2 separate regions of the Homo sapiens genome follow, and region 2 is linked to region 1. Evidence: fine-mapped expression QTL. A gene starts in region 1. The other region holds a variant in brackets. All regions are shown on one strand. Distances are from middle to middle. Region 1 holds the start of ATP5PD (ATP synthase peripheral stalk subunit d). Region 2 overlaps KCTD2 (potassium channel tetramerization domain containing 2).

Evidence for each region.
Region 2: its variant is fine-mapped to the expression of ATP5PD in whole blood (INTERVAL, PIP above 0.99).

What each region holds. Positions count from the first base shown.
Region 1 is chr17:75,041,723-75,053,460 of GRCh38, forward strand. ATP5PD (ATP synthase peripheral stalk subunit d) reads right to left here and starts at 5,247. Exons shown (of 6, transcript NM_006356.3): 1 at 5,203-5,247; 2 at 807-937; 3 at 459-555. The coding sequence starts at 928. KCTD2 (potassium channel tetramerization domain containing 2) reads left to right here and starts at 5,503. Exons shown (of 6, transcript NM_015353.3): 1 at 5,503-5,867; 2 at 7,498-7,606; 3 at 11,292-11,383. The coding sequence starts at 5,529. It also overlaps the pseudogene RN7SL573P. RefSeq lists enhancers at 1-115, 4,714-4,783, 4,722-5,307, 5,192-5,486 and a silencer at 5,184-5,613.
Region 2 is chr17:75,065,056-75,076,793 of GRCh38, forward strand. KCTD2 (potassium channel tetramerization domain containing 2) reads left to right here. Exons shown (of 6, transcript NM_015353.3): 6 at 1-831. It also overlaps the pseudogene TRIM80P. Among named protein-coding and RNA genes, the nearest start is that of SLC16A5, 17 kb to the right of the region's middle. RefSeq lists an enhancer at 2,777-2,846. The variant G/T (reference allele first, on the strand shown) is at 5,828.

The DNA of each region.
Region 1 (11,738 bases):
TTTAACTTGAAAGCCCCCTGGGGCGTGGTGGCGCATGCCTGGCTGAGGCACGTGGATTGCTTGAGCCCAAGAGTTCTGGGCTGTAGCGCGTTATGCCGATCGGGTGTCTTCACCAAGTTCAGCATCAATATGGTGACCTCCCAGGAGCGGGGGACCACCAGGTTGCCTAAGAAGGGGTGAACCGGCCCAGGTCAGAAACAGAGCAGGTCAAAACTCCTGTGCTGATCAGAAAGCCCTCTGGCTCCCAGATTAAGGCTACACTCTACTGCTGAATGAACAGAGCCTAAATTCCTGCACCTATTTACAGTTCAATCGACCACAAGGCCTTTGGCCATACGCATCCTTCCTAAGCTTCCTTAGGGATCTGGCTGTCATGCTGTGTATGTAATTATCCCTGTTCCTGCTCCCTACCCACAGGCATGTTACAAGCTCAGTGCTTTAGAGGTGTGAAGTCTCACCTTCTTCTCAAAGTCATCCACCAAGCCAGCCTTGGCCACATTGGCCTTGTAGTAAGCCCAGTCGATAGCTGGTGGATTCTCAGGTAAAGCAGCCAACCTGCCCACAAGGAAAGGCAAAAGTTAGGATTGTTCATAAGCAGTAGAAAATTCACATGGTAATTTTCCTATCCCTTCTTCCTATGGCCTGGAGGGTCACCACACTTTCCTCTCCTAAGATCATCATGAAAATGCAAGGATTTCTTTATATGTTGTCATAAGGGCATCAAGAATTCATATGTAATTCCTTAATACTGTTTTGTTTCTAGATTCAGTGGCAAGTATGGGGTTCCCTCTCAGAAACATACTGACCTGGAGGTGAGGGTCTCATTCCAGGATTTCAGGGAACTAGCAATGGCCTTTTGGTTCTGGGGTATGATCTCTGCAAAAGCTACCCAGTCAATGGTTTTTAGAGCAAGTTTTCGCCCAGCCATTTTGGGATCCTGAAAAATAAGTCAAATAAAAACAAGGCTTTTTTATGAGGTGAATTTTCAGTTGGGAAAAATGATAAATAACAAAATAAGAGCTCTTAGAGAGAATCCTTTAAATCTTAGAAACATGCAAGTCTTCACAAGAATCACTTGAACCCAGGAGGTGGAGGTTGCAGTGAGTCGAGACTGCATCACTGCACTCCAGCCTGGGAGACACAGCAAGACTCCAACTCAAAAAAAAAGAAAAAAAGACAGTGTAGCTTTTCAAATTCAAGGTAATTCAAGGTGTGCGGCCAGGCGCAGTGGGCTCACGCCTGTAATCCCAGCACTTTGGGAGGCCAAGACGGTTGGATCACCTGAGGTCAGGAGTTCGAGACCAGCATGGCCAACATGGCAAAACCCCATCTCTATTAAAAATACAATAATTAGCCAGCCGTGGTGGCCCGCGCCATAATCCCAGCTACTCCAGAGGCTGAGGCATAAGAATCACTTGAACCCAGGAGGCAGAGGTTGTAATGAGCTGAGATGGCATCAGTGCACCCTAGCCTGGGCAACACAGCAAGAGTCCGTCTCAAAAAGAAAAGGAAAGGACAGTGTAGCTTTTCAAATTCAAAGTGTGCAATGTGGCATACAAATACATTCTCTCCCAACTCCTATTTAGCCTTAAAAGCCCAGCTCTCTTGGCCGGGCGCAGTGGCTCATTTCTGTAATCCCAGCACTTTGGGAGGCTGAGGTGGGTGGATCACTTGAGGTCAGGAGTTCAAGACCAGCCTGAGCAATAGGGTGAAACCCTGCCTCTACTAAAAAATACAAAAATTAGCCGGGCGTGATGGCATGCACCTGTAGTCCCAGGTACTCAAGAGGCTTAGACAGGACAATCACTTGAACCTGGGCGGCGGAGGTTGCAGTGAGCTGAGATAGCGCCATTGCACTCCAGCCTGGACACAGAGTGAGACTCTGTCTCAAAAAAAAAAAAAAAAACAAACCCCAGCTCTCTTTATCCCCTCCATGTGCCTCTGGAAAAATTACTAAAAATAACACTCTTATTGCATAAAAGTTAATAAAGACATTTCCACCCAGATTGTGTTTTATTCACTGATTCTCCAGTAGACAGAAACTGACACACACCTAAGTTTCAACAAGCCTTAAATAGAGCACTCTCTAGGCTAAAATTTACTTATGTGTACAATGGGCATTATCAGTCCTGCTTGCCCCAGAGGGCTGCTAAAAGTGTCACATGAAATTGTGCACAGCAACTTGCTCCAGAGTTTTACAAACTTAAAAGGGCTATCCCCTTCCAACTAGATTGGTAATACACCTGCACCTTCTTATTCACATCGGATTATACCCTAGCAGCACCAGCACACGTTGTGCACTTTTTTTTTTTTTTTTTTTGAGATGGAGTTTCACTCTGTCCCCCGGGCTGGAGTGCAGTGGCATCATCTTGGCTCACTGCAACCTCCACCTCCCAGGCTCAAGCGATTCTCCTGCCTCAGCCTCCGGAGTAGCTGGGATTACAGGCACCCACCACCACACCCAGCTAATTTTTGTATTTTTTTTTTTTTTTTTGAGACGGAGTCTCGCTCTGTCGCCCAGGCCGGACTGCGGACTGCAGTGGCGCAATCTCGGCTCACTGCAAACTCCGCTTCCCGGGTTCACGCCATTCTCCTGCCTCAGCCTCCCGAGTAGCTGGGACTACAGGCGCCCGCCACCGCGCCCGGCTAATTTTTTGTATTTTTAGTAGAGACGGGGTTTCACCTTGTTAGCCAGGATGGTCTCGATCTCCTGACCTCATGATCCACCCGCCTCGGCCTCCCAAAGTGCTGGGATTATAGGCGTGAGCCACCGCGCCCGGCCCTAATTTTTGTATTTTTAGTAGAGACAGGGTTTCTCCACGTTGGCCAGGATGGGCTGAAACTCCAGACCTCAGGTGATCCACCCACCTCAGCCTTGCAAAGTGCTGGAATTACAGGCATGAGCCACCGCGCCCGGCCTGCATTTTAAGAGGTATTCAACACATGTGAAAATGTGAGAAAAATACAGAAAACGACTACAGCCACTTAAAAAAAAAGTCAGAATATAGGAAAATAGTCCTCTTTAAGTAAGATCAGGGTCAGATATTAAAAGACTGCAAAGTCAAAAATCTCTATAAGCTTGGAGTGGAATGCAAGGGAGGCGGAAGCAGTCTTTCTCAGGATCTTCAAGAAAGTTGTCAAACACCTGTCCTGTCCTTCCTTTCTTTCTCAGGACAGCCTGTTTCCTGTTGTGGAGGGGAGGTGTTAAGGCAATTGGCATGTGATTTTAAAGTTACCAGGGAACCAAGCACCCTTACAGACTTTCCCAAACATCAGTGTATCGGGGAACTTGCCCCGATAGTCACATAGGTTCTTTTCTATTTTCCTAAGCGTCGACTGGCTTGACAGAGTACAAAAGAGAGAAATTTTAAAGCTGGGCGTCCGGGGGAGACATCACACGTTGGTAGGATCCGTGATGCCCCACAAGCCACAAAAACCAGCAAGTTTTTATTAGGGAGTTTCAAAAGGGGAGGGAGTATACGAATAGGTGTGGGTGACAGACATCAAGTACTTAACAGGGTAATAGAATATCACAAGGCAAGTGGAGGCAGGGTGAGATCACAAGACCACAGGACCAGAGCGAAATTAAAATTGCTAATGAAGTTTTGGGCACCATTGTCATTGATAACATCTTATCAGGAGACAGGGTTTTCAGATCAACCGGTCTGACCAAAATTTATTAGGTGGGAATTTCCTTTTCCTAATAAGCCTGGGATCGCTATGGGAGACTGGAGTTTATTTCACCCCTGCAGTCTCAACCATAAGAGACAGGTACGCCCCAGGGGGGCCAGTTCAGAGACCTACCCCTAGGTGCGCATTCTCTTTCTCAGGGATATCCCATGCTGAGAAAAAGAATTCAGCGATATTTCTCCCATTTGCTTTTGAAGGAAGAGAAATATGGCTCTGTTCTGCCCGGCTCACCGGCGGTCAGAGTTTAAGGTTCTCTCTTGTTCCCTGAACAATTGCTGTTATCCTGTTCTTTTTTCAGGGTGCCCACATTTCATATTGCTCAAACACACATGCTGTACAATTTTTGTAGTTAACACAATTATTACAGGGTCCTGGAACGATATACATCCTCAACTGACAGGATTAAGAGATTAAAGACAAGACAGGCATAGGAAATCAGAAGAGTATTGACTGGGGAAGTGATAAGTGTCCATGAAATCTCTACAATTTATGTTTAGAGATTGCAGTAAAGACAGGCATAAGAAATTACAAAAGTATTAATTTGGGGAACTAATAAATGTCCATAAAATCTTCACAATCCACGTTCTTCTGCCATGGTTTCAGCCGGTCTCTCTGTTTGGGGTCCCTGATTTCCCGCAACATCAGTGGAAAATGGAAGTCACAAATAACTTTGTGTGTGTGTGTGAGTGAGACGGAGTCTCGCACTGTCGCCTGGGCTGGAGTGTAGTGGCGTGGTCTCGGCTCACTGCAACCTCCGCCTCCCGGGTTCAAGCGATTCTCCTGCCTCAGCCTCCCGAGCAGCTGGGATTATAGGGGCCTTCCACCACGCCCAGCTAATTTTTTGTATTTTTAGTAGAGGCGGGGTTTCACTACGTTGGCCAGGCTGGTCTCGAACTCCTGACCTCGCGATTCGCCCGCCTTGGCCTCCTAAAATTCTGGGATTACAGGCGTGAGCCACCGCGCCCGGCGAAATTTTTTTTAATTCTTAAAAATCTATTGCTTAATCCCCAGCGCCTAGAACAGATCATGCGCATAGGAGGTGCTCAATGAATCTTTCTTGAATGAGTAACCGAACTCTGCACCCGAGGAGCCCTGAACGCTCTATACGTTCGAATCCTGGAAGCTGCCGAAGGGGAAGGGCGCAGCCCCGCAGCCAGCTGAGCGTCCCTCGGCAGGTTAACACTGTCTGCGTAATGTTTCCCCAGTCCCCCCACCAAACTATTGAAGTCTGCCGCGCTGGGAGCGGACTGCACGAGACACGGCTTGTGGCAGCGCCTACATCAGCGGCGCCTGGGACACAGCCGGGCCCCCCTGACCCCGCGCGCCAAGGAGGGCTGAGGAAGGGATCGCGGGGCGAGGAGCGGCAGCTACACAAGGGACACTCTGCCAGCGGGGCAAGCCGAGGGCCCAGCGTCCTTGACGGGGGCGTGACAAGGGTCGGCGTGAGGTTTGGAGAGGGCAGAGCAGAGGAGCCCTCCAGGGATCGGATCCAATGCCCCAAGCCCCACTCACCTTCACCGACCCTGGCTGCCCACGGTCCTCCGCAGCAAGTAACGGAAGTGGGTCACGGGAAGATCTTTCCTCAGCCAACCCCAAAGCCAAGGGGGTGGGCCTTGCTTCGCAGATCAGCCAATAGAGATGAGGGCTGGTTCCGGAAGTATCTTCCCGGGGGCGGGCACAGCGCCTCCCCCGCGCGGGTCCCCGGGCGCTGGTTGGGGGCGCTCCCGTCCCTCTCCCCTCTGCCCCACCCCCGCCGATGGGCCGGCCCGGCTCTCCCTGCCGAGAAATGGGCCGGCCCGGCTGCGCGCGGGCAGCAGCGGTGGCGGCGGCGGTCCAAGATGGCGGAACTGCAGCTGGACCCGGCGATGGCGGGGCTGGGAGGGGGCGGCGGGAGTGGGGTGGGCGACGGGGGTGGCCCAGTCCGCGGGCCCCCCAGCCCACGCCCGGCTGGCCCCACGCCCCGCGGGCACGGCCGCCCGGCTGCCGCCGTCGCGCAGCCGCTGGAGCCGGGTCCCGGACCACCCGAGCGGGCAGGGGGCGGCGGCGCGGCCCGCTGGGTCAGGCTGAACGTGGGAGGCACCTACTTCGTGACCACCAGACAGACCTTAGGCCGGGAGCCCAAGTCATTTCTCTGCCGCCTCTGCTGCCAGGAGGACCCGGAGCTGGACTCAGACAAGGTGTGCCCCGCCCTCGGGCGCGCCCCCGGGCCTTCGAACCCCCTGGTTTCTCGTAGATCGGTCCCCAGAGTCCTGAGACACGCTCCTCACAGGCAGCCCCCTCAGGCCGGGACCCCATCCTCCCCCTCCCTCCCACACTACTCGCAGGGGCCTCAGAGGGACCTCCCACTCCCCTTCTTCCATGCTGAGGCATACTCTGGCTTTCTCCCCGACCCCGCCCTTCGTTCTCTGAGACTCCTTCCCACACTGCGCCCACCTGCACCCACGAGAACGCACTCCACACCCCTTCTCCATATTCTCTGCCCCTGACATCCCACTGAGATCTGCATGAGTTTTCCCTGGCTCCTCTTCAGTCCCCCCACTGCCGGTGCCAGATGCATCCAGAACTGGGTCAGGGTTAGCTCAGGCATCCTTGTAGCTTTCTCAGACTCCCTCTCGGACCCCTCTGCCAAGTTGGGCTTCCACAGCTGCAGGAAGCGCTCCTTGTGATATCACACTGCTTTTCTATAGTCCTGGTCGCAGAACTTTTATCTGTTAACAGTCACTGGTTTAGGTCCATATTTAGATCAAATGCGTTTTTTGGAAAGAGGTTACTGTTTGCCGCTGCAAATCTAGGCTAAGACAGAAGGAAAATGAAAATTTTCCCGGGAAAATTTTGGGCAGGATGCATGGCTGCTAACCAAAGGGTTGAGAGGTGACAAGACACTTAAACCATTTCCAGTTTGAACTGTGTCAATTTCTTTTTAACTTTACGTATTCACCTTTAAGTTCTCAACTTAAAGGCACTGACCATAACTCACACCATCTTATATCCCATATAGCACTCAGCTGGTGACCTCAAAACAGAGCTGGAGTTGCGTAAACATTTGTTGTTTTCGTTTATTCCTCTTCTCTAAGAAATCTCAGATTGATGGAAACCTATCCTGCCCTAACTTTAAAGAGATTTCAAAACCCTTGCTTATAAAGGAATTATTTTTATCTACTCTATATCCTCCTTGTGGTAATAGAAGCCAGTTTCTTCTTGTTCCTTTTACTGTAAAGATGAGTAGGATTAAAGCTGCTCAGAGCCAAGTCCTGGCAGTACCGAGCTTCCTCTGGGCACAGAGCTGGGGTGTGTGAGATTACAGCTGGCAGTGCAAACTCCCACTGATGTTGGCCTTGAGCTCAGGAGCATTGCCAACTACACAGAGGTTTTCTTGGAATTAGGAATGCAGTTCAGAGGCAGTGGAAAAGTCAGAATGTCCATCTCAAGCAAAGATTTCAGTTACACAGCTACGGCATTTTCTCCCTTTCTTAATAACAAACACGCTACAGAAGAATGTTTGTCACTGTAATTATTGTCCAGGCAAAGATTGCAAATTCCAGCCAGTAAGTAAACGCCTAAATGAGTATGACTGTCTGTAACACCCTACCTAAGATGATCTTAATGTACAAGATACATAAAGCTATAGCTTTCTTACCAATAGTTTGTGACAAATGTGTAACAAAATTTGCCATCACTAAAGTCTTTTTTAGCTGATGGAATGAATTGTTGTCTTGGGGCGCTGACAAAGATGGTGAAATCCTGCCCTGCCTTTGTTTAAAATACTCCTCAAAGGTCCACAATGATACCCTTGTGTTTGGTTGGCAGGATGAGACAGGAGCCTATCTGATTGACAGGGACCCCACCTACTTTGGTCCTATCCTCAACTACCTCCGCCACGGGAAACTCATCATCACTAAGGAGTTGGCAGAAGAAGGTAAGCGCACTGTTTGCATTGGGGATTTTCAAAATGCAAGTAGAATCTTTAAAGTTGTTTTACAGATTTCAATTTTGTTTGACATTTTCATCAGGCGCATGTGCAGGTATAGTTTCAGGTTTATGAAACAGAGCAGAAACTACCAGTCTTGTCTGAGGGAGTCATGATTAAGGAAGCCTCCTTAGGCTTTGTTCAGCTTCCTGGGTGAGAAGGAAGATAGGTAGCTCCGCTTTGCAGATAACTTCAGGAGTTCTTTCCGAATCTCCAGAATTGTCACGATCCTTTTTTTACATTTGTTTGTGTGCTAGCAGTGAGTGTCTGTAGTCTGAAGAAGCAAGACATCTCTGACATTCAATTATTTATAGTTTTAATTTTGGTTTGAACTCACAGTTGTACAAAAATAATAAAGGCTTGGCCTCATTTCTTTTAAGACTCTGGCCTCATGCTTCCCTGTAAATGTTTGCAGCTGACCTAATTCATTCTCTAGTTCATTGTCAGGTGTATCATTACTTGCCTCATCTTTGTGGTTTGTAGGGCATTGGGACTATAAGTGGGTCTAGTCCACTTTCTACAAGGCTTGGCATGGTCCCACTGAAGGCATTCAGTTGTAAAGGGGACTGTCCCTAAATCCAGGGCACCCTGATCTGGGAGCTTTGGCTCTGAGTAAGAAAGCTTGTAATGGCTGTACTAGTTAATGAAGTGACTGTGAAACAACTCTGTTTCAGCTAGTAGAAAGAGGAATTGCTCTCTCTCTCTTTTTTTAAATGTCCCTTTTTAAACAATATTTCAAACGCATACAGAAGTAATGGGAATAGTACATACAGTGAATTCCTTGCATCCACTATCCAGCTTCAACAATTACCAACTCATGGGTGATCTTAATCTTATTTATTTTTCTTTTTTAATTTTTGTAAGTACCTAGTAGGTGTATATATTTATGGGGTACATGAGATTTTTCTTTTTTTTTTCTTCGCTCAGGCTGGAGTGCACTGGCACAATCTTGACTCACTGCAACCTCAGCCTCCTGGGTTCAAGCGATTCTCCTGCCTCAGCCTCCCAAGTAGCTGGGATTACAGGCGTGCACCACCATGCTTGACTAATTTTTTGTATTTTTAGTAGAGACAGGGTTTCACCATGTTGACCAGGCTGGTCTTGAACTCCTAACCTCAAGTGATCCACCTGCCTCAGCCTCCCAGAGTGCTGGGATTACAGGCCTGAGCCTCCGCGCCCGACCTGAGATGTTTGGATATAGGCATGCAGTGTGAAATAAGCACATCATGGAGAATGGGGTATCCATCCCCTCAAGCATTTATCCTTTGTGATACAAAAATTCAATTACCCTCTTTTAGTTAAGTATCTTTTCTAATGCCTTTAATTAAAAAAACTTTATTTTGAAGTAATTTAAAACTTCAAAATAAGCAAGAAAAGAGCAAGAATAACACAGAGAACTCCCTATATCCCAGATTAACCAATTTTCAATGTTATTTTTGTCATATTTGGGGTATGGGGAGATCTTTTTGTTGTTTTTTTAAGAGTCAGAGTCTATCTTATCTTGCCCAGGCTGGTCTCAAATGTCTGGCCTCACATGCTCCTCCTGCCTCAGCCTCCTGAGTAGCTGCGATTATAGGCATGAGCCATCATGCCCAGCTTTTTTTTTTTTTTTGAGACGGAGTCTTGCTCTGTTGCCCAGGCTGGAGTGCAGTGGCGCAATCTCGGCTCACTGCAAGCTCCACCTCCCAGGTTCACGTCATTCTCCTGCCTCAGCCTCCCGAGTAGCTGGGACTATAGGCGCCCACCACCACACCCAGTTAATTTTTTGTATTTTTAGTAGAGACAGGGTTTCACCATATTAGCCAGGATGGTCTCATCTCGATCTCCTGACCTTGTGATCTGCCTGCCTCAGCCTCCCAAAGTACTGGGATTACAGACATGAGCCACCGCGCCCGACCTTTTTTTTTTTTTTTTTTTTTTTTGGCGACAGAGTCTCCCTCTGTTGCCCAGGCTGGAGTGCAATGGCACTATCACAGCTCACTGCGACATCCACCTCCCGGGTTCAAGCGATTTTCCTGCCTCAGCCTCCTGAGTACCTGGGATTACAGGTGCATGCCACCACGCCTGGCTAATTTTTTTATTTTTGGTAGAGACGGGGGTTTCACCATGTTGGTCAGGCTGGTCTTGAACTCCTGACCTCGTGATCCACCCGCCTTGGCCTCCCGAAATGCTGCGATTACAGGCGTGAGCCACCATGCCCGACCTTTTTTTTTTTTAAATCATATTTGCATTGTCCTTCATTCTCTATTTCCCCCTCCCTACCCCCATCCTCTTGCCTCTCCCACCACAGTTATTTCTGAACTATTTGAGAATAGATTGCAGATTTCACCCCTTAATATTTGTATATATTTCCCAAGAACAAGGATACTGTTTTATGTAACCACAGACAGTACAGTTATCAAACTCAGGAAATTTAATACTGATGCTTTTATCTACAGCTTATATTGCAGTTTTGTCAGTTGTCCTAATAATGGCCTTTATAGCAAATTTATTCCTATAGGATCACACGTCTCATAGTTGCCCTAAGGCCTTTGAGTTCATTTAGCATGCAAGTCTTTAAATGGTTGCCTTTTATATTGTTCAAATGATTAGCATCCTATTAAGTTTGGCCCACATAAATTTGTACACACACCTCCACCCCCACCCCCAGTCCTTTTGAGGGCAGATTGGACAAAAATATCAAGTTCAGGAGGTGTCCAACATGACTAGTTCCAGGAACTAAGTGACATATGGGAAAAGTGTCCTGCAGCTAATGGGCAGGTGCCAGGTAGGGAAAGGAGGGTTGAAATGGAGTGAGCAGAACATACCCTGGCGTTTGACTAATTTATGTTGGAGAAAAGGTCATGGGTTTACCGAAAATAGCAAAGAGATATTTCCTAGCAGAAGGAGAGAGATTGGATTTGCATTTAAATAATGCAGTTTTTAGGCCAGGAGCTGTGGCTCATGCCTGTAATCCCAACACTTGGAAGGCCAAGGTGGGCGGATCACTTGAGGTTAGGAGTTTGAGACCAGCCTGGCCAACATGGCAAAACCCCGTCTCTGCGAAAAATACAAAAATTGGCTGGGTGCGGTGGCTTTACGCCTGTAATCCCAGAACTTTGGGAGGCCAAGGCAGATGGATCACCTGAGGTCAGGAGTTCAAGACCAGCCTGACCAACATGATGAAACCCTGTCTCTACTAAAAATACAAAAAATTAGCCAGGCGTGGTGGCAAGCGCCTGTAATCCCAGCTACTTGGAAGGCTGAGGCAGCAGAATCTCTTGAACCCAGCAGGCGGAGTTTGCAGTGAGCCAAGATCATGCCATTGCACTCCAACCTGGGCAACAAGAATGAAACTCTGTTTCGGGCGGGGGGAAAAAATAGAAACAGCCGGGTGTGGTGGTATGTGCCTGTAGTCCCAGCTACTTGGGAGACTGAGGCAAGAGAATCATTTGAACGCAGGAGGCGGAGGTTGCCGTGAGCCAAGATCGCACCACTGAACTCCAGCCTGGGCGACAGAGTAAGACTCCGTCTCAAAAAATAAGTAAATAAATAAATAAGCAGTTTTTAGCAAGCATGTAACCTTCATCCTCTCCTTGGTGTTTTTCTGGCAAACCCTCGCACCTATCTGACTGCAGTTTTGTCCTTGTTCCAGGTGTGCTGGAGGAAGCGGAGTTTTACAACATCGCGTCCCTTGTGCGGCTGGTTAAGGAAAGGATACGGGACAATGAGAACAGAACTTCACAAGTAATGTATTTGGAACTGTTAAGGAGGGTTGTTTCAAGTGGGCTTCTGTCGGTCGGTCTGTGATTTGAAAAGGATGCCTTTACCCTTAGAGCTGGAGGTGTGTGTGGAACACCGTTTGCAGTGCAGGGAATGCACACTCAGCCAAACTGCACAGGAGAAAAGAAGAAACCACAAAGAAAACAGAATAGGCCTATGTCCCAATAGAATGAGAAGATTGTCGCTGCTTACCAGATGGCGGGAGGAGGCGCCCAGGGCACTTTAGGTCTAAAACCTGTTCTCTGCCCGAGTATGTCTCCCTCCTAAAGACCATAGAGGTCTTGGTTGCACCCGTTGGCCGCTCTTTTTTTTTTTATGA
Region 2 (11,738 bases), 23 kb after region 1:
GGGTCAGACACCAATGTTGAGCACCTCCTGAGGGCGCCGTTTCCTTCATTCCTCTTAGATTCCATAGTTGCCGCCATGAAAAGACTGCTCTTGAGCCCCAAGGCACAGGCACGTGCTCTGGGAAATAGACAGGAGTGGTATTTCCGCCCTCTCGGAGGGCTGGTGTTCACCAAGTTTCCCTCCTCGCTGCAACCCAATGACACCTGTATTGTTCCAGCGCTCCAGGACTCTGGGTTCTTAAGATTTCTGGGAGCGTTGTTCACCCACCCCCTTTAGGAACCAGGCTGGTGTTCTTGCTTGAAAGCGTTGTGCCCTCTGAGTGTCTGGCTGATCACATCAGAGAGGTCTGCGTGGCAGTTTGGGGCTGTCACGTGACCAGTGACCCACACTCTCTGCTGCCCAGTACTGCCAAGTGGGGAGGGTCCTGCCTTTTTCTCTGCCCCAGGTCTGGGACGCAGGTGATGCCAGCCAGGCCCAGGAGTGCCCAGCATCCCCCAACTGATGACACAGTAGCACTGATTCTGTCTTTTCCTCAGAATCTGGCCTTTTTCCATGGCAATGAGGTGGGGCCCAGCCTCCTCTAAAGTGACTTTGTTTCTGCACAGTTGTAACTGCTCTTGGGGATGTCAGTGAGGCTGGGAGCAGGGAGCCACGGGATGCTGAGAGAGGAGGCCCGAGAGGACACCCCACCCTCCAGCGTGGCCTTTGATCCAGACTTAGGGACGAGGCTGTCACTGGTGGGCACCCTCTGTTCCTGTTTGTGTGTTTGAATAGTCTGAAATGCTGTGACTTTTTTTGTGTGAATAAAGATATGAAACTTCTGAATCTCAAGAACTGTGGTGTGTTTTCCATTACTGCAGTCTCCTGGTTCCCACTGTCACTTCCTGTCGATGGTTCTCACATGGGTTTCAGGAGATGACTTAACTACCTTTCCTACCAGGACAGCTGACTAAGTCCTTTTCTCCTGCTACTGAAACCACCAAAGGGGGTGTTGGGCCTTCTCCCTCCTCCCTTTCATTTTACTGAATCTGAAAAGACCCAGAGAATGCAGAGAAACAGAAGGTGGGACGGATGGGCTGCCCACCAGAGAGCTGGAAAGAGACAAGGGGAGGAGTGTGAGATTTTTTTTTTTTTTTTTTTTCCCCGAGATGGAGTCTCGCTCTGTCACCCAGGCTAGAGTGTAGTGGTGCAATCTCGGCTCACTGCAACCTCTGCCTCCCATGTTCAAGCAATTCTCCCTCGGCTTCCTGAGTAGCTGGGATTACAGGCGCCTGCCTGCGCGCCTGGCTAATTTTTGTATTTTTAGTAGAGACAGTATTTTGCTGTGTTGGCCAGGCTGGTCTCGAACTCCGACCTCAGGTGATCCTCCCGCCTCAGCCCCCCAAAGTGCTGGGGTTACAGGCATGAGCCACCATCCCCGGCCGTGAGATGGTTTTTAAGGGACAAGTCTTTCTGGAAGAGAGTGAGTGACTAGGTACAAGGAAGAGGATGAGTGAGGAACGTTTGGTGACAACCAACAAACAAGTATTGATCACTTCAGCATCAGGCGGGGCATGGGAAACTCAGAAGGTGTTAGTCCCTTCCAGACAGCACTTTCAGGTAGGGAGACAAAATGGACTCATACAGCTTAGTGAACAGGATGCGTGGGTGCATCCGTCAGGGTCCAATTGAGACCACAGCAGTTGTTAACTGGTAGTGGAGAAAGGAAAGGGCAGGAGTGGACACTGAGGCATCACAATGTAGGGATTGCAGGGTGCAGTCCTCACTCCTGGGACCTGAGAACAGTGGGAAGACATTGGGATTATTAAAGTGGAGATTTGGCCGGGCGCGGTGGCTCACACCTGTAATCTCAGCTCTTTGGGAGGCCAAGGCAGGCGGATCACCTGAGGTCAGGAGTTCGAAACCAGCCTGACTAACGTGGAGAAACCCCATCTCTACTAAAAAATACAAAATTAGCCGGACCAGCTACTCGGGAGGCTGAGGCAGGAGAATCACTTGAACCTGAGAGGTGGAGGTTGTGGTGAGCCGAGAGCACGCCATTGCACTCCAGCCTGGGCAACAAGAGCAAAACTCCGCCTCAAAAAAATAAAAGGGCTGGGCGCAGTGGCTCACGCCTGTAATCCCAGCACTTTGGGACGCCGAGGCGAGCGGATCACGAGGTCAGGAGATCTAGACTATCCTGGCCAACATGGTGAAACCCCGTCTCTACTAAAAATATAAAAATTAGCTGGGCATGGTGGCAGGTGCCTGTAATCCCAGCTACTCTACTCGGGAGGCTGAGGCAGGAGAATGGCTTGAACCCGGGAGGCAGAGGTTGCAATGAGCAGAGATCACGCCACTGCACTCCAACCTGGTGACAGAGCGAGACTCAGTCTCAAAAAAAAAAAAAAAAAAAAAAGATTCACCTGCACTTTGGGAGGCCCAAGCTGGGAGGATTGCTTGAGCCCAGGAGTGTGAGATCAGCCTGGGCATCGTGGTGAGACTCTGTCTCTATGTAAAATTAAATCTAAAAATAAAATAAGGCCAAGTGTGGTGGCTCACACCTGTAATCCCAGCACTTTGGGAGGCCGAGGCAGGCAGATCACTTGAAGTCAGATGTTTGAGACCAGCCTGGCCAACATGGTGAAACCCTGTTTCTACTAAAAATACAAAAATTAGCCGGGCATGGTGGCACATGCTTGTAATCCCAGCTACTTGGGTGGCTGAGGCACGAGAATTGCTTGAACCCGGGAGGTGGAGGTTGCAGTGGGCTGAGATCACACCACTGCACTCCAACCTGGGTGACAGAGATTGTGTCTCAAAATAAAATGGAGATTCAAGAGGAGGGGACCAATGGAGAAGGACGTGCTGGCCAGTGGCAGCTGCTGCCTCTCAGAGGGTAGAGAAACCACCAAGAAACCAGCACCACTCCTGGAATCAGCTATGCCAGCACACAGCAGTGTTCTGTGGTTTGGCTCACAACAGGAAATACATCGTCCCTCCTTTTTTTCTCTCGTCTTGCAGTCTCCCTCAGCCTGTCCTACCAGGTTGAGCTAGGAGGGGGAAAATGTGGCTCGGAGCAGAGTTCAGAGGGTGGGTTTGGGGCTGAGAGACAACAATGTGGTGACTGGCTCAGTCCACCTGTTTGGTTCCCCTCACATGTACATGCTTCTGCACATACTTGAACTTGCATAGGATGGTGAAAAATGCTGGGTGTGGTGGCTCATGCCTATAATCCCAGCACTTTGGGAGGCCAAGGCAGGTGGATCACTTGAGGTCAGGAGTTTGAGACCAGCCTGGCCAACATGATGAAACCCCGTCTCTACTAAAAATACAAAGAATTAGGCTGGGCGCGGTGGCTCACGCCTGTAATCCCAGCACTTTGGGAGGCCAAGGCGGGTGGATCACGAGGTCAGGAGATGGAGACCATCCTGGCTAACACGGTGAAACCCTGTCTCTACTAAAAATACAAAAAATTAGCTGGGCGTAGTGGTGGGCACCTGTAGTCCCAGCTACTCGGGAGGCTGAGGCAGGGGAATGGCGTGAACTCGGGAGGTGGAGCTTGCAGTGAGCCAAGATCGCGCCACTGCACTCCAGCCTGGGCGACAGAGCGAGACTCCGTCTCAAAAAAAAAAAAAAAAAAAAATTAGCTATGCGTGGTGGCGGGTGCCTGTAATCCCAGGTACTCTGGAGGCTGAGGCAGGAAAATCGCTTGAACTCAGGAGACAGAGGTTGCAGTAAGCCGAGATCATGCCATTGCGCTCCATCCTGGGCAACAAGAGCGAAACTCCGACTCGGAAAAAAAGAAAAAAAAACGTGGTGAAAAAACAACTTCATGCCTCCATGGAACAAGATACAACTACCCTTCTACAAGCAAAAATAATCTCTCCTTCCCTCCAAAATAAACACGAAGTGCCAAGTCATTGTATCCCTGTCTCAGAGACAGTCACTATTTCTGAGCTATGTTAATTGCTCCTAATTGCCAGGCTCACACCTGGAATCCCAGTACTTTGGGAAGCTGAAGTGGGAGGACTGCTTGAGGCCAGGAGTTCAAGACCAGGATGGGCAACATAGGCCCCATCTATAAAATTTTTTTTTTAATTAGCCAGGCGTGGTGACACATGCCTGTAGTTCCAGCTACTCAGGAGGCTGAGGTGGGAGGATCACTTGAGCCAAGGATTTCAAAGCTGCAGTGAGCTGTGCCCTCTAGCCTGAGAGACAGAGTGAGACACTGTCTCTCTTTTTTTTTTTTTGAGACGGAGTTTCACTCTTGTTGCCCAGGCTGGAGTGCAATGGTATCATCTAGGCTCACTGCAACCTCCGCCTCCCAGGTTCAAGCGATTCTCCTGCCTCAGCCTCCCGAGTAGCTGGGATTACAGGCGTGTGCCACCACATCCAGCTAATTTTTGTATTTTTAGTAGAGACAATGTTTTACCATGTTGGCCAGGATGGTTTGATCTCCTGACCTCGTGATCCACCCGGCTCGGCCTCCCAAAGTGCTGGGATTACAGGCGTGAGCCACTATGCCCAGCCAGAACCTGTCTCTTAAAAAAAAAAAAAAAAATTGGCCAGTTACCATGGCCCACACCTGTAATCCCAGCACTTTGGGAGGCTGAGGTGAGAGGATTGCTTGAGGCCAGGAGTTCAAGACCATCTTGGGCAACATAGCAAGACCTGTCTCTACAAAAGAAAAAAATTTTTGTTAATTACTCCTAATTCGGTTGGTGTAATACACAACACCTAGTTGGTGACGGGCAGCTCAGGCCACAGGGTCACTTGATGTCCCATGAACTAGGTGTTCCATCTCGGTCAGGGCCCAGTGAAATAGTTACTTGCAAAAGAGGACATGGACCTGCCCAGAACCCTGGAGTTCTGCATGGCCACAGTCCAGTTGGGACTTGCAGGAGGCTCTGATACAGCATCTGTACTGGCAGGAGATAATTTCAGTATCACTGGATCTCCCCAGCCATAAAGCCCAGGTGGCAGCACAGAGCTAAATTTTTAATAAGAGTCATACCACACAGAAAGATTTTCATCAGTAAAGCTTTCCCCTGGAGTAAACTGTTACTCCATGAAGCCAGATTAATTCCTTGATCAATTTTCTATACAGGGCAATTAAATTGCTTCTAAGTTTTATATTTTCATTTTAATTTTTACTTAAATACTTTCATTAAGATCATGGTTTTCCTAGAATCTTTCTGAACTTACTCTGATTCAGAGGACTGCCCAATTAAAAAAAAAAAAAGACTGGGGCCGGGCGTGGTGGCTCACGCCTGTAATCCCAGCACTTTGGGAAGGCAAGGTGGGCAGATCACCTGAGGTCAGGAGTTCGAGACAAGCCCAGCCAATATGGTGAAACCCCGTCTCTACTAAAATACAAAAATGAGCCAGGCATGGCGGCAGGTGCCTGTAATTCCAGCTACTCAGGAGGCAGAGGCAGGAGAATCACTTGAACCCGGGAGGTGGAGGTTGTAGTGAGCCAAGATCACGCCACTGCACTCCAACCTGGGCAACAGAGTGAGACTCTGTCTCAAAAACAAATAAATAAATAAAAATAAAATATCGGCCAGATGTGGTAGCTCATTTGTGTAATCCCAGCCCTTTGGGAGGCCGGGGCAGGTGGATCGTATTCGAGGCTGCAGGGAGCTATGATTGTGCCACTGTACTCCAGCCTGGGCAACAGAGTGAGAAACCCTGTCTCAAAAAAAGAAAAAAATATATGCTTGGCCAGGAGAGGTGGCTCATACCTATAAACCCAGGTACTTGGGAGGCTGAGGTGAAAGGATTGCTTGAGCCTGGAAGGTCAAGGCTTGCTTGCTTGCTTGCTTGCTTGCCTGCCTGCCTGCCT[G/T]CCTGCCTTCCTTCTTTCTTTCTTTCGAGGCTGAGGTAAAAGGATTGCTTGAGCCTGGGTGGTTGAGGCCTTTCTTTCTTTCTTTCTTTCTTTCTTTCTTTCTTTCTTTCTTCTTTCTTCCTTCCTTTCTTTCTTTCTGTTTCTTTCTTTCTTTCTTTCTCTTTCTTTCTTTCTCTCTTTCTTTCTTTCCTTCTCTCTCTTTCTCTCTTTTTTTTTTGATGGAGTCTTGCTCTGTTGCCCAGGCTGGAGTGCAGTGGCACCATCTTGGCCCATTGCAACCTCCACCTCCAAGGTTCAAGCGATTCCCCTGCCTCAGCCTCCCGAGGTAGCTGGGATTACAAGCGCCCGCCACCACACCCGGCTAATTTTTGTATTTTTAGTAGAGACGGGTTTTTGCCATGTGGGCCAGGCTGGTCTCAAACTCCTGACCTTAGGTGATCCACCTGCCTCGGCTTCCCAAAGTGCTGGGATTACAGGCCTGAGCCACTGTGCCCAGCCGTGTGAGGGTATTTTCAACCGTCCGTCTGTCAGCTCTTAGGACACATTCCCAGAAGAATAGAAAGATAGTTTATGTAGAAATACATGTGAAGTGTCATTAGTGGAAAAAAAATTTTTTTAAACAAAGTATGTAACCATATTTAGCTGTATAAGAGAAATTTATTTGTGCACACAGTATAAAGTTAATTTTTCTTTTTTTTTGAGACAGAGTTTCACACTTGTTGCCCAGGCTGGAGTGCAATGGCACTATCTCGGCTCACTGCAACCTCCACATCCTGGGTTCAAGTGATTCTCCTGCCTCAGCCTCCTGAGTACCTTGGATACAGACATGTGCCACCATGCCTGCCTAATTTTGTATTTTTAGTAGAGACAGGGTTTCACCATGTTGGTCAGGCTGGTCTCGAACACCTAACCTCATGTGATCGCCCACCTTGGCCTCCCAACGTGCTGGGATTACAGGCCTGAGCCATCGCATCCAGCCTAAAGTTAATTTTTTCAAGGATTTAAATACATCTTTTGTAAGGTTTTTAAAATAAAGGCAGATTGAGTCAAGTTTATTGAAACTTTACATGGAGGGAAAGAATATGCTAATTTGACATTTTAGAGAAGTTTAAATGCAAGCGTTTGTTGTCCCAGCTTAGAGATTGGTGGGTGAGGTCTGTGTGTGTCATTTTCATGTTCCAAAACGGTGAGCTTTATCTTATGTTATTTTTGGTGGATGTTGACTTAGTTCATGAATGTTGTCACTTCTAAATGTGGACAGTTGGGCTGGAAGATAACACAGCCTCTTCCGGAGCCTAGTAATCCCTGCCAAGCCCCCATCAGTCATATTTCTAAATGAAGACATTATTTTGTTCACATTTCCTTGGAAGAAAATTAAGCAGCTATTAAAGTCATGGTCACCAGGGTCATGTTGTGGCATAAAAAGTACTAGTGAGTTAAATAAGGATTCAGAATTGTATGTATGAAACCTCTATCAACATATCAAAATCCAAGCGCATCACTTTAGGTTGTGTGACTCTCCCCCTTTCCTCCATTTTCCTTTCTTTTTTTTTTGAGATGGAGTTTCTCTCTTGTCGCCCAATCTGGAGTGTAATGGCACGACCTCAACTCATTGCAACCTCTGCCTCCTGGGTTCAAGCAATTCTCCTGCCTCAACTTCCCAAGTAGCTGGGATTACAGGCACCTGCCACTTCGCCCAGCTAATTTTTGTATTTTTTGTAGAGACGGGGTTTCACCATGTTGGCCAGGCTAATTTTGAACTCCTGACCTCAGGTGATCTGCCTGCCTCAGCCTCCCAAAGTGCTGGGATTACAGGCGTGAGCACTGGTGCCAGGTCGCCTCCATTTTCAAATTGTGTTTAAGGCTGGGAGCCGTGATTCACACCCGTAATCCCAGCATTTTGGAAGGCCGAGGCAGGCAGATCATTCGAGGCCAGGAGTTCAAGACGAGTCTGGCCAACATGGTGAAACCCCGTCTCTACTAAAATATACCAAAAAAAATAAAATTAGCCAGACGTGGTGCCGCACGCTTGTAATCACAGCTACTCAAGTAGCTGAGGCATGAGAATCAAGAATCGCTTGATCCGGGAGGCAGAGGTTGAAGTGAGCCAAGACTGCACCACTGCACTCCAGCCTGGGCAACAGAGTGAGACTCTGTCTCAAAAAAAAAAAAACCAAATTGTGTTTAATATACTGTATATATATATATATACATATTTATTTATTTATTTATTTATTTATTTATTTATTTATTTATTTTGAGTCTCTGGATGGCAGTAACTCAGTCTCAGCTCACTGTAACCTCCACCTGTCAGGTTCAAGCAATCCTCCTGCCTCAGCCTCCCAATTAGCTGGGATTACAAGCATGCACCACCACGCCCGGCCTATATATATATATACTTTTTTTTTTTTGAGATGGAGTCTTGCTCTGTCGCCCAGGCTGGTGTGCAATGGGGTGATCTTGGCTCACTGCAACCTCTGCCTCCCAGGTTCAAGCTATTCTCCTGCCTCAGCCTCCTGAGTACCTGGGATTACAGGCGCGCGCCACCACACCCAGCTAATTTTTGTATTTTTAGTAGAGACGGGGTTTCACCGTGTTGGCCAGGATGGTCTCGATCTCCTGACCTCAAGTGATCTGCCCCCCTGGGCCTCTCAAAGTGCTGGGATTTACAGGCGTGAGCCACCTCACCCGGCTGACACTTTTTTCATTGCAAGATTTTGTAGCCTCAGCTACTCAGGAGGCTGAGGTGGGAAGATGGCTTAAGCTGGGAATATGGCTTCAGCCAGGGAGGCAGACAGAGGTTGCAGTGAGCTGAGATTGCACCACTGTGCTCCAGCCTGGGGGACAAAGCGAGACACTGCCTTAAAAAAAAAAAAAAGACTTTGTCAGTGAAGGAAGGACTACATTGATTTACAACCTGGCATGAGCTTCTTATGTTGCTAAGAGCCAGCAGTGGTTCATGGACAGCACTTGGAATTGCACTGTTGTGTAATATAACAATGAAAATCCCCGTTGCTGGGATAGGTGGAGACTAAAGGCTTATGTGGGACTTGGGCCTGGCAGCACTGCCGCAGGGCGCCCACACGGCTGTATACCTGCTATGCCCCTTCTGGCCCTGCTGCCTCCTGAGCTCTCCAAGGCCCTTTCCTGTGGCCTGAAACCCTATGATCATCACTGTTAGGAGCAAATAACCTGATTCCTTCGAATTAGAGACAGGCTCTCAGGGAGTGGGAGCAGCCCTCCAAGCAGAGGGCTAGGCCGTGGGCCATCCAGCACTGCACCCTCATTCTCATTAAGCTGAGCAGAAGAATGAATGAGGGATGTCTCTTCTGGGCTCGGACATGGGCCTGTTTGCAGTAGGGCTTCTCTGAGGCCACCTCTCTGAATCAGGGGCCCCTCCTCCTCTCCCCCAACACCTTACCCCAGGTCGAGGTTCAAAAGGTCCAGGACACTGTGGGGAAGCAGATGCTGATCATCGCTGCTGACGGCCAAAAGCACCAGGGTCGGGTGGCCTTTCTCTCAGTAAGGTTGGCCCACCCCACCCCAGGCCCAGGCTTCCCCAGTGCCCTGCATCAGGCTGCAGGGACCTCCCAGGACTCTGAGTGGATGGCATGGGACCAGGCAGTCAGGGACAGGATGCCTAGGTGGGCTCCGGGCTGTGACAGTGGTGGTGCTGGAGTGGAGCTCACGGACGCCTCTCTACACACCCCACAACCTCCAGGAACTGATCCAGACAATGCGAGGTGAGGCGAACACCCACTTCTCGGAGATCATCAGGAGGTCAAACAGCTGCAGATGCAGATCTTGGATTTCGTGGAGAAAGAGGAAGCAGCCGCCCTGGGGATGCTGAGCAGCTCCATCCAGCAGAGCCACAACCGGCTCCTGAAGCTGGAAGGAGACAGCGTCTGGCTCCACACCCTGCTCATCAACCAGAGTGACCAGCAACGTCTGCAGGCAAGGTCCCAGCCCTCTGCCTCTGGCTCAGGCCCCATCGCAGCTTCCACTCTCCCTCCACCCACAAACACATCAGATCTCGGTCGGGAGTGGTGGCTCATGCCTGTAATCCCAGCATTGTGAGAGGCCGAGGCAGGCGGATCACCTGAGGTCAGGAGTTGGAGACCAGCCTGACCAACATGGTGAAATCCCACCTCTACTAAAAATACAAAAATTAGCCAGGCTTGGTGGCAGGCGCCTGTAATCCCATCTACTCGGGAGGCTGAGGCAGGAGAATCACTTGAACCTGGGAGACGGAGGTTGCAGTGAGCTGAGATCATGCATTGCACTCCAGCCTGGGCAACAAGAGCACAACTCCATCTCAAAAAAAAAAAACCACAAAACACACACACACACACACACACAGCCGGGTGCGGTGGCTCACGCCTGTAATCCCAGCACTTTGGGAGGCCGAGGCGGACAGATCACCCGAGGTTGGCAGTTCGAGACCACCCTGACCAAACATGGAGAAACCCCGTCTCTACTAAAAATACAAAAATTAGCTGGGTGTGGTGGCACATGCCTGTAATCCTGACTGCTCAGGAGGCTGAGGCAGGAGAATTGCTTGAACCCAGGAGGCGGAGGTTGCGGTGAGCCGGAGATTGCGCCACTGCACTCCAGCCTAGGCAACAAGAGCGAAACTCCGTCTCAAAAACACACACACACACACACACACACACACACACACACACAGATCAGCCTTTAGGGTGCATCACTGTGTCCATTCCCCTGCCTCAGGGAGCCTCCCCATTCCAGGTCTTCTGTCTTGAGCTTGCACGAACACCCTTGGCTTTCTCCACTTCAGAGCTCAGCCTTACCCTAACTTTCCTGCCTTGGTTTTCCTGGAACACATGGGATTCCAGGCATCTAGCACAGCCTAAGTTTCTCCAGACTTCCCTGGATCATGGCTGAGAGTGAGACCAGAACAATCTGTATAGCCTGGATTGAAATCCCTTTTCCAGCCCAGGAGGTGGAGGTTGCAGTGACCCAAGACTGCACCATTGCACTCCAGCCTGGGCAACAAACTAAGACTCTGTCTCAAAAAAAGAAAAAAAAAAAGAATCGTGAAATCCCTTTTCCTTCCCCAATCCTGGCCTGGCCCTGAAGCCTGGACTGATGCTGCTGTAAGTAGCGGGTGGGGCCAAGCAGCAGCCTTTTCTGGACGGTGCCTGGAGTTGCCCAAACCCTGTGCTTGGGAACTCCAGCTTCCTTTAAGCTGCCATCACACCCTGGGCAGACATCTAGGGCAACTGCTCACTTTGTCCCCTGTGCACAATGGGAAGCATTTGGCAATGGCTTTTACTAAGCAGTTCAAGGCACAACAAAAATCCTCCCATCATTTTCTGAAAATCCCCTTTGCCTAATGCACACTAGGCCACAGTGGCCAAGCCCTTGGCAAAGCCCTGACCTCTGATGTCCAAATAGCTAGGAGGAGGGAAAGGAGATGCCCAGGTTTGGAAAGGGGAAGCTTCTGCTCCACCGGCCCATGGTTCTGGAGGCCTCTGGGCCTGTGGCATCGGCCTAGGTCCTGGCTAACAGGTGGTACCTCTGGCCCCTCCCTGCATCCAGGGGTTCCTCCGACTGAAGCAGTTCTCAGCCTGCATGGAACCCCTGATGGGCATCAACTGTGAGGAAACGCAGAGCTTCCCCCAGCTGCCAGAGACCCTGGCTGAGCTCTGGATGCGGCTGCTGGACATGGGCCTCAGCTTCTTTAACCAGCTCTCAAAGTTCTGGGATTACAGGATTACAGGCGTGAGCCACCGCGCCTGGCCTTTTTTTTTTTTTTTTTTTTTTGAGACAGACTCTCGCTCTGTCTCCCAGGCTGGAGTGGAATGGCGCCATCTCGGCTCACTGCAACCTCCCCCTCCTGGGTACAAGTGATTCTCCTGCCTCAGCCTCCCGAGTAGCTGGGACTACA